Regions from separate parts of the Homo sapiens genome. Here all the other regions are linked to region 2. Evidence: fine-mapped expression QTL. A gene starts in region 2. Each other region holds a variant in brackets. All regions are shown on one strand. Distances are between the middles of the regions. Region 1 overlaps CNTN6 (contactin 6). Region 2 holds the start of CNTN6 (contactin 6). Region 3 has its middle 40 kb from the start of CNTN6.

The links. PIP is the estimated chance that this variant, and not a neighbour inherited with it, causes the effect.
Region 1: its variant is the best candidate, but not a certain one, in a credible set for the expression of CNTN6 in testis (GTEx, PIP 0.64).
Region 3: its variant is the best candidate, but not a certain one, in a credible set for the expression of CNTN6 in testis (GTEx, PIP 0.67).

The regions. Positions count from the first base shown.
Region 1 is chr3:1,147,385-1,152,621 of GRCh38, reverse strand. CNTN6 (contactin 6) reads right to left here. Exons shown (of 23, transcript NM_001289080.2): 2 at 4,559-4,695. The coding sequence starts at 4,613. Among named protein-coding and RNA genes, the nearest start is that of CNTN6, 57 kb to the right of the region's middle. The variant G/TATG (reference allele first, on the strand shown) is at 3,216.
Region 2 is chr3:1,090,852-1,096,088 of GRCh38, reverse strand. It overlaps CNTN6 (contactin 6), which reads right to left and starts at 3,065. Exons shown (of 23, transcript NM_001289080.2): 1 at 2,969-3,065.
Region 3 is chr3:1,050,100-1,055,336 of GRCh38, reverse strand. No RefSeq gene overlaps it. Among named protein-coding and RNA genes, the nearest start is that of CNTN6, 40 kb to the left of the region's middle. The variant A/C (reference allele first, on the strand shown) is at 2,417.

The DNA.
Region 1 (5,237 bases), 57 kb before region 2:
TCATCTTGTGCATTCTGAGAATTTTTCACTGTGGGAAAATGTGACAGTTAATCACATCAGTTAATCTTGGGTTTCTTAGGCAGGTGACATTCTAGGGTCAACAAAATTTGACCCTACGTGGTTTTTCAGCTTCTACCCATTACTGACATTGTTCAGTATTTATTAAAAAATAAAATATTTCTGGACCGGTTGTGATGTCTCATGCCTGTAATCCTAGCACTTTGGGAGGCTGAGGTGGGTGGATTGCCTGAGCTCAGGAGTTTGAGACCAGCCTGGGCAACATGGTGAAACCCTGTCTCTACTAAAATACAAAAAATTAGCCCAGCATGGTGGTGCGTGCCTGTAATCTGAGCTACTCAAGAGGCTGAGGCAGGAGAATTGTATGAACCCAGGAGGTGGAGGTTGCAGTGAGCTGATATCACGCCACTGCACTCCAGCCTGGGCAACACAGGGAGACGCCATCTCAAAAAACAAACAAACAAACAAACAAACAAATATATAAATAAATAAAATATTTCCTCATGAAAACAATCTGTGCATTGTCTACAAAGACAAAAAGTAGACTTACAGTTATAAGTTTTTCTCCGTTTATTAATTTGGTTATCCAAATTATCTCATTAACATATTTTTTCTACTTTAAGAAATGTAGATTTTTCAGTAACTCAGGGCTGAGAATAAACGTTCTTAGTCTATATTAAACCTCTTGATTTTTTTTTCCTTCCAGGAATTATTGTGACTTCTTAAAATTCTTTTATTTGCTCTTTTCCTCATTTTCATTAGTGAATAAGCATTTATCCCAGCAGAGTTCTGTTACTAACTCAACCTCAAAACCAAATTTTTAAAGCTGTATTAGTCAAGAACTTTTTTGTCACAAGGGGCAGAATCTCAGTTTAAGTGGACTTACTTGCTGGTTTCCCTGTTTAGACTGTCAGGTTGAAGAGGGCAGGGACTATGGACCTATTGTTGAAGGTCAACATCAAGCTCCTTGCCTGGCACATCATAGTTTCTAATATATTTCTATATTTGTTGAAGTGAATGAAGCTGCTTTCTTTTATTCATTTAGCAAATATTTAGAATCTGTGTATTAGGGGATGGAGAATCAGTAAAGCATAAACCAGATGAAATTTCCTGCCCTCACAGAGTTTCAAATACGGCATGATTTAAAACTTTTAAAACGTTATTACAATTCTATTTCTAGAAACTTATGACTGTAACTTTAATACACACTGGCAACCATAAAGGAATGAACCAGACTAACAGTTCCCCAGAGGATATTATATGACTAAATTTATTCTACTGTGATAACATAAATAGAACAAACAACATTAACTTTTGGTAATTAATTAATTCATTCATTTAACAAATATTTACTGAATCCCTACCAAGTACCAGCAAGATATAGTCCCTGCCATCTGGAAGCTTAAAGCATAGTGAGGAAGAAACTTCAGTTTCTTATGACTTCTATAAAAGTTACCAAAAATGTTATGGCTTAAAACAGTACATATTTATTTTCTTAGAGTCCTGGAGGTCAGAAGTCCAAAATGGGATTCACGGGGCTGAAAAAAGGTGCAGGCAGAGCCATGCTCAGTCCACAGATAGAGGGGAGAATCTGTCCCCCTGCCTTTCCCAGCATCTAGAGCTTCCTTCATCACACCCCATGGCTCATGATCCCTTCCTCAGTCCTGAAGTCTAGCAGTGCAGCATCTTCACGTCTCCCTCTGCTCTGCTGCCTCATTGCCTTCCCCTCTGTCAGGTCTAACTCTGCCTCCTTCTTACAATCTGGATAGTCCAGGGCTATTTTAATCTCCCCATCTGAAGATCTTTAACTTAATCACATCTGCAAAATCCACTTTACTGTATCAAGTAGCACTCACAGGTTCCAGGTATTAGGACCTAGATATCTTTTGGGGCCATTATTTAGCCTGTCATGCATATCAATGAAACAGTTAAAAAGTATATAATTATTAACTGTATTTCCTAATTAAATGGGCCTTCATTTTCTTCTAATATTTTAAAAATACTAAAATAGAACAATTAAACTTTTAAGTACTCAAAACTTTAAAAGTGTCCCAGAATCAATCATGTATGACTGTATGGATTAAGTTTCATTGTAAAGGCCTATGAGGCCATGACTATAGTAAAAGCACTAGAAGTTGTAGTTAATTTTTAGAAAATGAGGGGAGAGGTTGTCAAAAAATTTTAAGTTTTAATTTAGAGTCTAGGGAGATTTAAAGTATCAACCTGTTAGAAAAATTATAATAATTCAAATAGCAAGGAAAAAGTAAGTAATTGTGAAAGATTTGCTGGCATTTCAGAATGAATAAAAAGTATGTTTTGGAAAAACAAGATATTATCACTATGCATAGTCACAGAACTCTATCATCAGACAATCTAATTTTCTAAACTAAAATAGTATCTGCGAATAGGGAGACACACCATGAAACGTCTAACAAAACAAACAGATTTAAAGCAGTGTTGTCTTGTGTATGTCATTATCAACATCCTTACCTCTGGAGCAATGTTTAGCTTAGATTATCTCATTTAAGTAGCTATGGCTACTTAATAGATCCAATCTGTTCTTTCACAATGAAATTGTGCACCAAGGGTATATGATGATTTCTCCCATCAGAATAAAGCAACAGGACATGTTGAATCACATCCAGTTTGTATAAATAAAAGTTAATATAAGAGCTGGAGTATTTCTCAGATTTGATACGTGTTCTGAGACTAATAATTCATTTTAATTTAACACAAAAGGTCTTTTAGAGATCCTATGCTAATTCAATATACATATTTAAAGGGCAAAATGTTAATGTTGAATTTTGACAGGAAGATGAAACTTAAGGGTAGGAATATAATTCTTATTCACACATATATGATTTGGGGGCACCTTGATGAGTTTTCTCTGTCTTTTCTTAATCTATTACCAAAAAAAGAATACACTATTATTTAACCCCAAATCTTTGTTACAGAGACTTAGAGGTGTCACCAATCAAAATACTGTAATCACTTTGAGTAAATATAACTATGGCACTTCTAGCTGCTAGCTTTGCTAGTGGTAAAATTGCTTTTATTTGTATGGTTTTCTGATTCTCCTGTTTGATTTCTGCATATTTTAGCATTCTCATTCATTTTAAGATCAGCATATCTATTTCTCAGGATTGCTATAAAATATATGTCCTTTACAATTACTGTGTTTCTGCCTTTTAAATTAT[G/TATG]TTTATTCCTGCATGTCTGTCAATGTATTACTGCTTTGTTATAAGTACGTGAAACTTCACTAGTACCTATCAACACATAGTCGGGGGGAAGAAGCATGGTATGGTAGAAGAGAGGCTTCTTTGATAATCATATGATCTAATCAATGTCCATGCTCTGTAACAACTCATGTAGGTAAGCTCAACAATTAATCTTGACAATTAAGCTCAGTAATTATGAACTCTATGATTGTAACAGACTATGGTTGGTTGTTTACAAAAACAGCCACGATTATTGCCTTTATTATTTCTATGGCCTTTTTATGGTATAATTTTGCAGCTTTTCTATCAAGAGATGTAGTGTCATTCCACATCTATTAAAGCTGAACTTGTCTTGTGACTTATAATTGTCAAAATAACTCACAGAAATGGCAATGTAGCAGTTCCAAGCGTTGGCATCAAGAAATGCTGCATTCTTCTGTCTTTTGTTTTCTTGGAACCCTGAGCAGCCACCATGTAAAAGAACCCAGACTCACAGAGGGTAACATTTGGACCACAGCCATGGCAGCACAGTTGTCTCAGTTACGAATGTTCTAGACTAGTCATGTCTCAGATGACTCAGCTCATCGAAGTTGCAGTGCACCCAGGCAAAAACCAAAAGAAGACCCATTTGAGCCCATCGTAAGTTGTTAACCCACAGATTTGTCAACTAAATACATGATTATTTGATATTTTATTACACTCACATTTGGCGTGGCTTATTACAAAGCAAAAGTTAACTGATACACAGATATTAATATGTTCAAGTTGAATAAAAGAACATGTTCTTGTCTATTCTTTTAAAATAATTAAAAAGAAAATATATCTAAGGTTATTTCTAGTTCTGAGGTAACATTCTATATCATCTTTTCTTCTAAATGAATATAGCTTTGATTTTTTTGCCATATCAATTTCTAAACATGAGAGAAATATGTATTTTAATTTTAATTTTTTAAAGACTTCACTATAATGAAAATAAGAATAATTATTCACTGTTTATTGGTGATAAAAATATTTAATTACATTCTTTTATTAAAATGTCATAGTATATTATATAATTAAATATTACATAATTACATTGTATAAAAATGTCATATTTGCCAATTTATAAATGTAATAATGTTAGTTTCCATTTAAAACTGGCATTTGATACATTTTTAAGGATTAAACTTTCCCTGTCTGAGTCATAGAAGTTACCTTCAAAACATTATCACTTAGTCATTCAAATAACATACAAATTGTGCATTTTGAAAATTGCTTCACCCATAGAAAGAAATACAATGCCAATATATTTATCAATCAAAACTTATAATAATAGAACACTTTACCTGCAGAAGAGTTTATGAGTGGCAGCAGAATTACCAGTTTCCATAGCAACCTCATTTCCACTTTCTAAGGTCAAAAATTTCTCCCATACAATCAGGTGGAACAAAACAGTCTATCTTCCAGTCAGTATCTCAAGAGTCTGAAAAAGACAAAATTGTCATGAAATGAAAAACGTACAAACACGAATATTTTAATAAGCATATTTTTGTTGCATATTAATTCAATTTAATATTAATATTATTATCCAAAATAAAGCAACCTAAATGGATGCTTTCTACACATACATTTGTTCTGCGAGTTCCAGTAATGTCAGCTCATATTTTCTTAATTTCAATTCACACCTCAAATATTAGAAAACATTATTTGTCCTAATATCACAAGAGAAAAATTAATATTGTGCTGCAAAATTTCTGCAAGAAATCAATTTCTAGCAGTGTTATCTTTCAGGTACGAGACTTGCTTTTCCTAAGGGGGTTGCATCATAATTTTCTCTAATTTATTTTGACATTTAAGCTATGCAGTGATAAATGAAATCAAGATAAAATGTTAGTTTGGCCTTTAGCCCAAAAGAGAAATCTAATAAGAGGTTCATAAAAACTCCTAAACTCATAAAAATTTAGAATAAGCTCAGAATAAACTTATCTATGTCCATGTTCTGTAACAACTCATGTAGGTAAGCTC
Region 2 (5,237 bases):
CAAGAAAGATAACGTATCTTGCATGTCTAAGGCAAAAGAAATACATGTTCAAGATGCAAACTCATAGAAAATATAGCACCTATGACTATTTCTTTGGTGGAGAGGTACTACTTACTGAAATCTAACAACCCAAAAAATAATTGAAAATAAAGAACACAGAAATGGTGAATTGGGTAGTAAAAGCCTGTTGATAAAGGATAATTCCTTACAAATTTGAAATAAGTTTAAACTGAGACCATGGGAATTCAGCCAGAATGTATGTACTCAGTAATGTAAAACTGATGTAGTTTAAATTGAGGTGGTATGGGTGGAGTTGATGACAAGTCACATTGCAAATGCATTTAACTATCATAACAAGGGTTATAAAAGTTTGTTTACTATTTAAACGTGCATCCAAAAAAATCTTCAAACTATTTCTATTTTCAAAATTTTTGGTCTTAACTGTAAGGGTATTATTCTGGACATAATATCTCCATTGGAGAGAAATCTATACATGAAATTTAACAATTTCTTCAATGTTGTTTCAACTTCTCTTTTTTCAGTTTAATTAAAATCTAAAATCAAAAATTAAACTCAATGTTTCTGTTTTCTGTTTTCTGTTTGTTTGTTTGTTTGTTTGAGATGGAGTTTCACTCTGTCACCCAGGCTGGAGGGCAATGGCGCGATCTCTGCTCACTGCAAGCTCCGCCTCCCGGGGTCAAGTGATTCTCCTGCCTCAGCTTCCTGAGTAGCTGTGACTACAGGCACACGCCAAAACGCCCAGCTAATTTTTGTATTTTTAGTAGAAATGGGGTTTCACCATGTTGGCCAGGATGGTCTCAATCTCTTGACCTCGTGATCCGCCCGCCTCGGCCTCCCAAAGTGCTGGGATTATAGGTGTGAACCACCGCGCGCGGCCAATATTTCTGTTTTTTTTTAAGTGTAGGATAAGATCTCATTCTTACAGAAGAGTATCTATTATTGACTATATTATCTAAATATTTATTATTTATTTTTTAAAAGGTGTATAGTAAGAAACCATTCTTACAAAAGTATTTATCTCTCATCTTATCTGAATTTAGGCACCAGTATGTCTCCAATGATAGTCGCCAAATTTCATGATTGTTATTTACAGGTGATGGGTTTTCCCTTTTGAACTTTTATGTATAGTTTGAGTCATTTTTAATAGGTAGAACTTATACTTCTGCATTCCAATTAATATGTTATTAAAATAAACAGTGAATAAATAAGCAAATATTTTGTATTCCTTCTCCTCACATAAAAGAATTTAAAAGGTACAAATTTACTATTATACTACTGAGCATTTTTACTTACTAAAAAAAAAACCCAGAAGTATGCAATCAATTTAATATACCACACATCCTTTTCACAACATAATTGATTTTTTTTAGAGGGGGTTCTAAACTCAGAGAAAATATGTGATCCTTTTCTAAGTAAACAAGTGAATTTGTTTTCATTAAGGAAAGCTACATAAAAATTCTAAAAAAAAATTCTGGTCCTTCACTACAAATATTCAAAGGAAGTAATGCAATGAAGTCATTTATAAATGATTGACTTTTTTGCTAAGATGTGATAAGTTATGCATTTATATAACCTCACATAAAGCTTTATATAAAAGTTTCCACATTTATATATTTGAAATCTTTGGACTGCACAGCCATGATTATTGCTTAAAAAAAGAAAAAGAAACCCCACTGAAACATCAAAGATGAAATGCTTCTGTATTTCTTTTTTTTTACACAAATTGTGTAAGTATTTTTGTATGTTTATGTTTGTTTTGTGAACATGCGTATGTTTACACATGTGTGTGAAGGAGGAGGGAAAAAGAGTCTGCTTAAACATTTCTTTCCTTATAAAATACAATGCACATAAATTGGTGAAACCTTCAACAACAAAAATAAAAAGATGATAAACCCATCAGATAAATGAAAATTGCTCAAAACAAGCAATTCAATATTCAGCATATGCTTCTTCTTTTACAGACATCTTCAGAAAACATTGCCACTGTAGATAAAATTATGAATACCTCATTTTCCAAATTGATTCTGTGTGATTCTACTGTTCACTCTATTTTTTCTCAGTATAACTTCTATTTAGTCATTCTGTGAATGTTTCTCAGAGGACATAGTCAGGATGCTGATTATTTAAACATAAGTAGTTTTCATTTGGAGAAGCAAAAACTATGAATTCCAATTTTCCCCCCAAACCCCAATGTTACAGTATCCCATTAACATAATGGGTTATACGTGGCTAATCTCAGAGCTCTTAAAAGTTTTGTTCCCAAGTCATCAACTTCTGAAAGTTTTCATAAAGTATTATAAGAACCTTAATACTGACAACTTAACTGGTGTAAATGGTAAAGGAAACTCCAGAGGCTGTTATCTAGAAGCTGGGTATAAAGCAAAATGCCAGACAAAATTTGGTGAGCCCATATGACCTCCAGTCTTGCTTTGCTCCCCTTACCAAATTCTCCCCTAGGAAACTTTATAACCATTCTTTTAAATCATCCGGTGAGAACTGCAAACCCCACCCCTCATCCCTTTGATTAAAAAAAAAAAAAAGACAAAAAACATTTAGCGATCACATTTTCCCATCTGCCGTTACAGAAAGGGCGTGTAGCCATCTGAAAGTCCCAGAATTAGCACTGTCATCCCGTCTTGCCCATTAGTTTTACTGCAGCAAAGACTAGTGAAACACTGAGAAATATACCTGTAGTCTTTCTTTCCCTGGTTTGATCCTAACCTCCCGGAATACAGATTCAATACATTTCTCCCACACAAGGAATAAATGCATTTTAAACATCAGCATCATAGAAACACAGCATCAATAAAGCAGTGACTTCTCCCCCAACCCCAGCTTTTACCTGTTATGCTAATACAAAGACATTGAAAGGAAGAAAAGCTGCAGCTTGCCCAGCAATATTCTCATTGCAGCAGACACAGCACAATTTTGTACTTACAGATCTTACCAGGGAAATGTCTCGGGATCTTTACAGTTTTTCTGCAGAACTCTGTTTCAAGCTCTCAGCCAGGCATGCTGTGCGTCCAGGCAGAACCAAGCCGTATGGAATGTCTATGCAGCTGGGAGATAATGGGACTCTTTTTCCCAGCTGGGACTGCAAGCCTTTTATCCACTGAGTATTGCGTGGCTCTTCTCTGGTCTTAAGCATGAAATACGCTCCTCTCCTGCTGCATTCCTGTCGGAGCCAGACAATCAGTTCTTGAGGCACATGTGCAAAGCTCTCGTTTGGAATATTCAAAAGGAAAATTCTTTCTACATTGAAAGCCAGCTCTATCTTCATCAACCTTCACAGAATCAGAGAGAGCTGAGAGCAGCTGCCATTCCAGGGCCATGAAAGATTAAATTCACCCTCCTCTTTCTTTGACTGGAGATAGTCACTCCTGTCGGGTCATCAGAAAATCTCTCTTATTGAAAACTGGGTCAGACTAACTACTTATTAGGTTTCCAACAGGAAAGGAAGTAATTTTTTTCTTCCTCTGGTTTCACTGCATTGTCATTTGCAAGCAAAGATTAAGCTGGTCAAGGGTCTGCACTGATTTAGACAGTATTCAAATGTAAGCTTTTTGAAGCATGCCAGTAACTCCTATTAGTGAAGGTGAAGAGAAAAGGGAAATAAAATCAAATGATTGTATGCACTATCACTAAAACCTTTATAAGTTGTATTTTTTAAATGTGTGTATGAGGCTTCTTAAAGACAGGTAAAGAAAGTGAAGTCAAACAAGTCCAAAAGAGTATTGCTGCTTTCCGAGTAACATATTTGTAATTCCAGAGGCAGAGAACAAGTGTCTATGTGTTTGCCTAAGAGCTCTGTAAGAAGAAGAATTGTTTTTGTGTTTCACCCTGGGCCCTCCAACTAAACTTTTTAATATGTTTGGGTCTTGTCATCGGGTTTTGAAGGGACTAACTGCTTGAAGGATGAAAACTAAGGAATAGGAATTACACATACATGCACACTGAGACTCTAGTGCATACAAACATAACTATAACATGAGAAAAGAATGATAGTTTGGACTTATTTTCATGTTGGCATACAAAGAAATTATACTCTTAGCATCTTAAAGTAAGTGGATACTGAGAAAATGAAATCCCCAAATCAAATGGAAATAAGTCAAAAGATATTTCTTGGCCTCAGTTTACTTTCATCTGATGAGCAAGAAGGTTTCTATGACTACATTTTATGACTATGTCCTATGGATTTCTTCACAGGGTCTAACCAACATTATAAGAGGCTTTAGAAAGGAGATGATGCTTCCTAACACAAGGTAAACTCAAAATGGGCTACCCTATTGTTTCTCCCAATTCATAAGAAGGCAAACTAGACTAATAATTTTATAGAAAGAATATCTGTTTTTATTGCCTCTTTTTTTTTTTTTTAAAAAAAATAGAAGTATTTCTTGCTCTGTAGGAATAAAAATATATTTTATTTGTAAAAATGCCAAGATGACTTTTTCTGCAGAGTTTTAAGAAAAATAATCATTATGTAGTAGGCTTTATTTTTTTTTTGTGGAAAGAAATTCATTCAAGCTTAAAGAATATCCCTTTACTCAAATCTCCAACAGTCTGACTCATATTCAAGGACAGCTGATTGCTTTGCTTTCTATTTTACCCAAAAAGGAATAAGAACCAGAAGAAAACTTCAATAAGCTCCTGTCACTACATCTAGTCACATACTTGGCCCCTGTGACCACAGACTCTCCCTTCATCTTGTTACTTGAGGTGAACCGTGCTCCCTCCTTAGACCAAGCCATCCACCTGTGCTTTAGATAGTCTTCTACTCAAGGGACCATTCTACCCACTTGTCTCTCTCTGTGGAATCATCAACTCTCCCTACCTTCTGTAGCATCACAACAAAGAGATTTGCTGCTAGTTGGCCCATTTTAAAAATCAGCACCCCTTTAACATACCGTCTTCCTCTGTCTACTACTGCATTTCCTTGCTTCTGTTTATAGTAAAACACCTTGAAGGAATTCTCTGTACTTACTGTCTCCATTCATCTTTTCTCATTTTATCTTGAATCTGCTTTGATTAGTCTTTTGTCCCCACTGTTCCACATAAGTGTTTCTGGTCATAGTCAATATTAAATTACGCATAGAATAATGCAATGGTCAACTTAGTCCTAATTTTACTTGATGTATCACTCACAAGTAATACAGTTTACCAAGTACTCCTCCTTTAAGCATTGCTTTTGCTTAATTTCTTAAATTTTCTTCTCGTTT
Region 3 (5,237 bases), 41 kb after region 2:
GAATTAGATCTTGTTGGTTTAGTTATTTTCCCCATCTTTCCCTCTGCTGACTACCACACTGTAGGGTCAACGTATGTCTGACAAACAGAAGTATAAATGAATTGAAATGATAAAAACCACGAACTCTTAACTCCTAAGCCAGAGTTGTTTCCATTACACCAAGCTGACTTGATCTATAACAGACAGGACAACAGATACTATGTTGTGGTCTAACTATAAATCAAAGTTATTTCCTTTAATTGAAGTTATACTTATGATAAAGAGTGGAAAGGGGAATATAGTTTTTTTTTTCTGATGGTTTAGGCTATGTATATATATGCTTCCAAATCTACTCTTTCAGTTAAAAACACTTAGTTAATGATTCCACTTCTTTGTTTTTCTTTTTGGGTGGCTATATATGAGCATTAAGCTCATCTAATATTGTGGTTTATATTCATTTAATTCCAATTATAAATGTAATTCCAACTAAATAAATAAACAAACAATATCAACCCTCAAGCTTTGCTTTGGTTGAATAACATGAAATAAACACAGCTTGTAGCCCTAATTAACCAGGTAATTGGTTCTGTGTAGACTTGGTCTGTGTTTGCTTGATAGTGTATCTTCATTCTCAAGCCATGATTTCTATTAGACTTAATTATGCCCCCCGCTACTTTAAATCGAGGGTGTCCTCAAAATGAGTGTTGCATGTATTAAATTTAATTACTTCCTTCTGTGGATCAAGTGCCTAAGATGCTGCTATTAAAAGGAAGTTTTTACTAAGAGAGGATGCTCCTGAACTGGAACATACATTTGTAAAACAACTTCCAGTACCATCACATGGCTCTGACTGGCTGTTTGCAATTCTTGCATGAACTCATTCTTTTTATTAAACATGCTTTATGGAGTAAAATGTCTCAAATAAACATGGCTACATATTCAATTTTTTTTTCTTGGCATGTCCAAATTGATAATTTGTTCATTTGTTCTCCTGGATCGATATTTCAACCGGGAAATGACATATCTATTCTAGGCATATTGTGGCTAATGGCTACTGGTACATAAACCTTCAGGCAATATATGCTTTCCAATAATTAATTTATTAGTAAACTCCCTAAGAGTGTTGTAATAGAAACTGAAAGGTGATAGAAAGAGGAAAAACACAACGGAGAAATGTGCCAACTATGTACCAAGATCTGTTATTACAAACACTTTTAACTCAAATAATTGAACTCTGGGGAATTTCATCACTTGAATTTTCATTTCAGAATTGTCTCAACTTAATTCCATTGATCTTCAGATGCTTTTATAAGCAACCTTAGCACAGATGATTTGTCTAAAGAATCTAAAGCAACATTAGAAAAACAGAACAAATACCTTACCCTATTTTCCATTAATAAGAACACTTTCTTTTGGTTATAATACGTATGTCTGCAAGTCTGTGTTGGCCATAGACTAGCTGTGTAACCTTGGGAAAATTGTTTTAGTAAAATGAAGATAATCATTATAATTCCCACCTTACCAGTCTAACCTGGTTGTCAAGATGATGAAACAAGAATGCTCTGAATTTTCCACATTAATATTAATTTAAAATACCACTGTTCAAAAAAGTATATAAGTTTAAGACAGAAAATTAAAAATCATAAAAAATGACGCTAAGCTATTTTGCACATTTGATCAAAAATGCCCATCCCATTAAAAAACAAACAAACAAACAAACAAAAAAACTGTCTACATAATTCTGAAGTAGTTTGAATAAATTTTTGCCCTAGCTAATGGTATGTCTTGGCTGTCCCTAAGACATCATTTAAAGTAACAATTATTTTTTCACCTGTTATTACTTTCTTCCAGATAATAGCACATGTCAAAAAATTAATGATCAAAAGCAGTTTTTAGCTGGGCGTGGTGCCTCGCGTCTGTAGTCCCAGCACTTTGGGAAGCCAAGGCAGGTGGATCACTTGAGGTCAGGAGTTTGAGACCAGCCTGGCCAACATGGTGAAATCTCATCTCTAGTAAAAATACCAAAAAAAAAAACAAAAAAACAAAAAAACAAAAAAAAAAAAAGGTGGGAATGGCGGCAGGTGTCTGTAATTCCAGCTACTCAGGAGGCTGAGGCAGGAGAATCCTTTGAACTCAGGAGGTGGAGGTTGCAGTGAGCCGAAATCGTGCCACTCCACCCCACCCTGGGCGACAGAGGGAGATTTTGTCTCAAGCAAAAAAAAAAAGCAGTTTTCAACATGCAAAAAATAAGGTCATTTATTGCAAATTACTTGGGCCAGTTCCAAGTAAATAATTTTACATGATCTAGGCATTTAAATGAACTGTCTGTGCTCAATTACCTGCTCCTACACCATCCTACACCATGTTCCCAGGTGCTTTTTACCATTACTCTAAAATTTTGCTATGTTTCCATATCTCTGGATTGTAAATGATTCAA[A/C]ACACATTAAAATGGTAAGGCCGTTTAGTTAATGTGGAACTAGTCTTTGATCCTGGGCAATTAGAAATGAAAGATATCGTCTGTATTATGTGGGGAAGTATCCAAAGCGCCTCTTCTCTAAAGAATTGTAAACTATGGTGAAGCAGGAGGGAAAGAAAGATTTGTCCCCATGAAAGACAGACTCTTTAATTCTGCACGACTCTTGACAAGCCAAACTCCAGTTGTTGTAAGTTAAAAATAATAATGAAAACAATAATACTAATAAGAGCAATGACTAATATTTATCCAGTGTTTATATGTGCTAGGCATTTTGCCAACACTTTATATACATCTTCTAATTAAATCCTTTCAATGAAGAAACTGAGACATAGAGAGTTTGAGTGAATTGCTGAGTACCACATACTAGGATTCAAACTAAGGGTTATCTGATATAAGAGTTCACTCTTAATTTCTGTATTATAATGCAAGAAAGACAACATTTAGCTCAATGGAGCTTGATCTGAGTTCTACAACAACAGAATGAGATTGTCAGTCAGTAATTCCTATTCACAGAGATTGAAAATGATAGAGCAACAAATTTATGGATGAAGAAATAAAGTTCAGAGCTGCAAAATGTCTTTTTCATCACCACAAAACTGGCTAGAAACAGAGATGAGATAGATGCCAGGTCTAATAAACTTTTCATCATATCCTACATTTTACCCAGTTAATGCTGAGGAGTACCTGTAAGGATGTTATACAGGTGTTTGCACAAGAAGTGGTGCAGTGGACGTGCTAGGCAGTGTTATTTTTTTCCTGTTTTTACAAAAGAATGTCTTTTATATTCTTCCACCTGTAGTTTGCACTAGCCCTCTGGTCATAGCGATGAGCAATAGGAGTTAGCAAATATTATAACCTATTTCCCAGACAATAGTGGTTGGCTCAAAGGATGGATAAATCCAACTCTCTGCTTGATATTAATCCATAAGTATTTACAAATATCATGTGCTTTCCCACTGAAGTTGCTAAAATGTGGTTGTTTTAAAGCTTATGATCACTAGAAGGAAATTGAGCCAACACACAGCAAGAAACAGAAGCAAGAGAAGGTCAAAGAAAATCCCAGCACGGTTAAACTGTGGGTTCTAAATATTTAATTCATCTGCTGTTTGTTTTTTAAAAATTCTATTCGGTAAATACTCCTAAATCCCTCCTTGACTATATGGGTCAATTAATTTCTCTTTTCTTTGAGTTAGTTTGAGTTGAATTTAAGTTTCTTGCAACTGAAAGACCGAAGGCCTAGCTACAAAAGATGAAAGGGCTGAACGCTGTTTCCCTTGAGGTGTCTTCCAAGTCACTATGAGTTACTAATGGTTATGTCTGCTATGTTTAGTCATTCACCACTATTACCTATTCCACCAATTCAACAAAGCACCCAAGAAGTCAGCTGGAGCCACTCACTCACTGTGAAGTAAAATGAGAACCCCTCCAACAAGTAGCCCTGTTTCCAAATGTAAGAAAGTCTAAAACTGAATCCTAATATTCATAAAACATTTTGTTTTCTTCAGGGGAATTTAAAACACTGTAGCTAGAAACATTTTTTTAGCACCACAAACCAGCAGCATTTGAATTAATTCTTGTAAGAGAAAAATATTGTTTTCTTCAAAGAAACTCCCTTGTAAGTTTATGCACCCAGCTGTATACTCCCAAACCGTTCTCACTTTATCATGTAGATATGGAAGTTGACATGGCTATTTATTGTGCCTGAAATTTAGTTTTAATTATTTTGATGCTTCTTGGAAACAAGTCTGAAGCCCATGGTCAACACAGCCAAAATGTATGAACTTTTCACAATCATTGCAAAATTTCTTGTTCAGAATATTCCATTATGTTGAATAACAATTTGTGAATAGGTTGATGATCAACAACTAATGTCCAAATAGCAGTGCCAACCAAAGCTAGGAATCATAGGCAATTACAATATACCTAAAACATAACTGTGGCCCTCTCAGTGAGTATAAAATTATTACAATTGTAATGATGCCTACAAACTCAAAAACTCCAAATATATGTTGCTAGCTCTACTTTTCATACTCAACTAAAAGGAAATGTGTATAACATGAAAACTGACATTGGGGAACAAAAACTGGCTAAGATATGAGTCATAACAGACACTACATTATCAATCTTTATGTTGAACTGTAGTCACACTATCACAGGTTTAAAATGAATTCCAAGCCTTTATATCTATAATTATTCTTAGAGAGAAGCAAAAAAAAAACACAGAGATTTCCAGGAGCTGTCAAATAATCAAGAAGTGACCCTCTTTAGACCACTGATACCAGTTGGTGAATTGAAAGTTTTTCAAAGTCAAAGTATTGAAGAAGTGCCCAAATAGATGTGTCCATGACACTCGATGGGCTTACCCAGCTGTCTGTAATTTTAAGTTACAGACAAGACTTGTCAACAGTGGAGTGACCTTATGAAGGTCAAGGCATAGTGGGAATTATTGAATAGATTGATTATGCATCAGGCTTAGTGCAAAATTTTGTCTAATTTTCTTAAGTGCCACTTAGGCAATAAATAGGCCAGGAAGAAGTTCACAACATACTAAACACCTAATATTTCTCTATTTAGCCATCCATATACAGGTAATCATTTCAAGCACACTAAGTCATTTGAAGCCAAGGCAGTGGAATACAATTCTATTTCAATTTAGTGTACTAATGTGACACTATCTTCTCTGTAAATAATTTAAACTAATTTTTTAAATTGTAAACTGGAAAAGAAATTAAAAGCCACTATATGCTTCTCATATCTCCTTAAGTAATTAGTAATTAAAAAC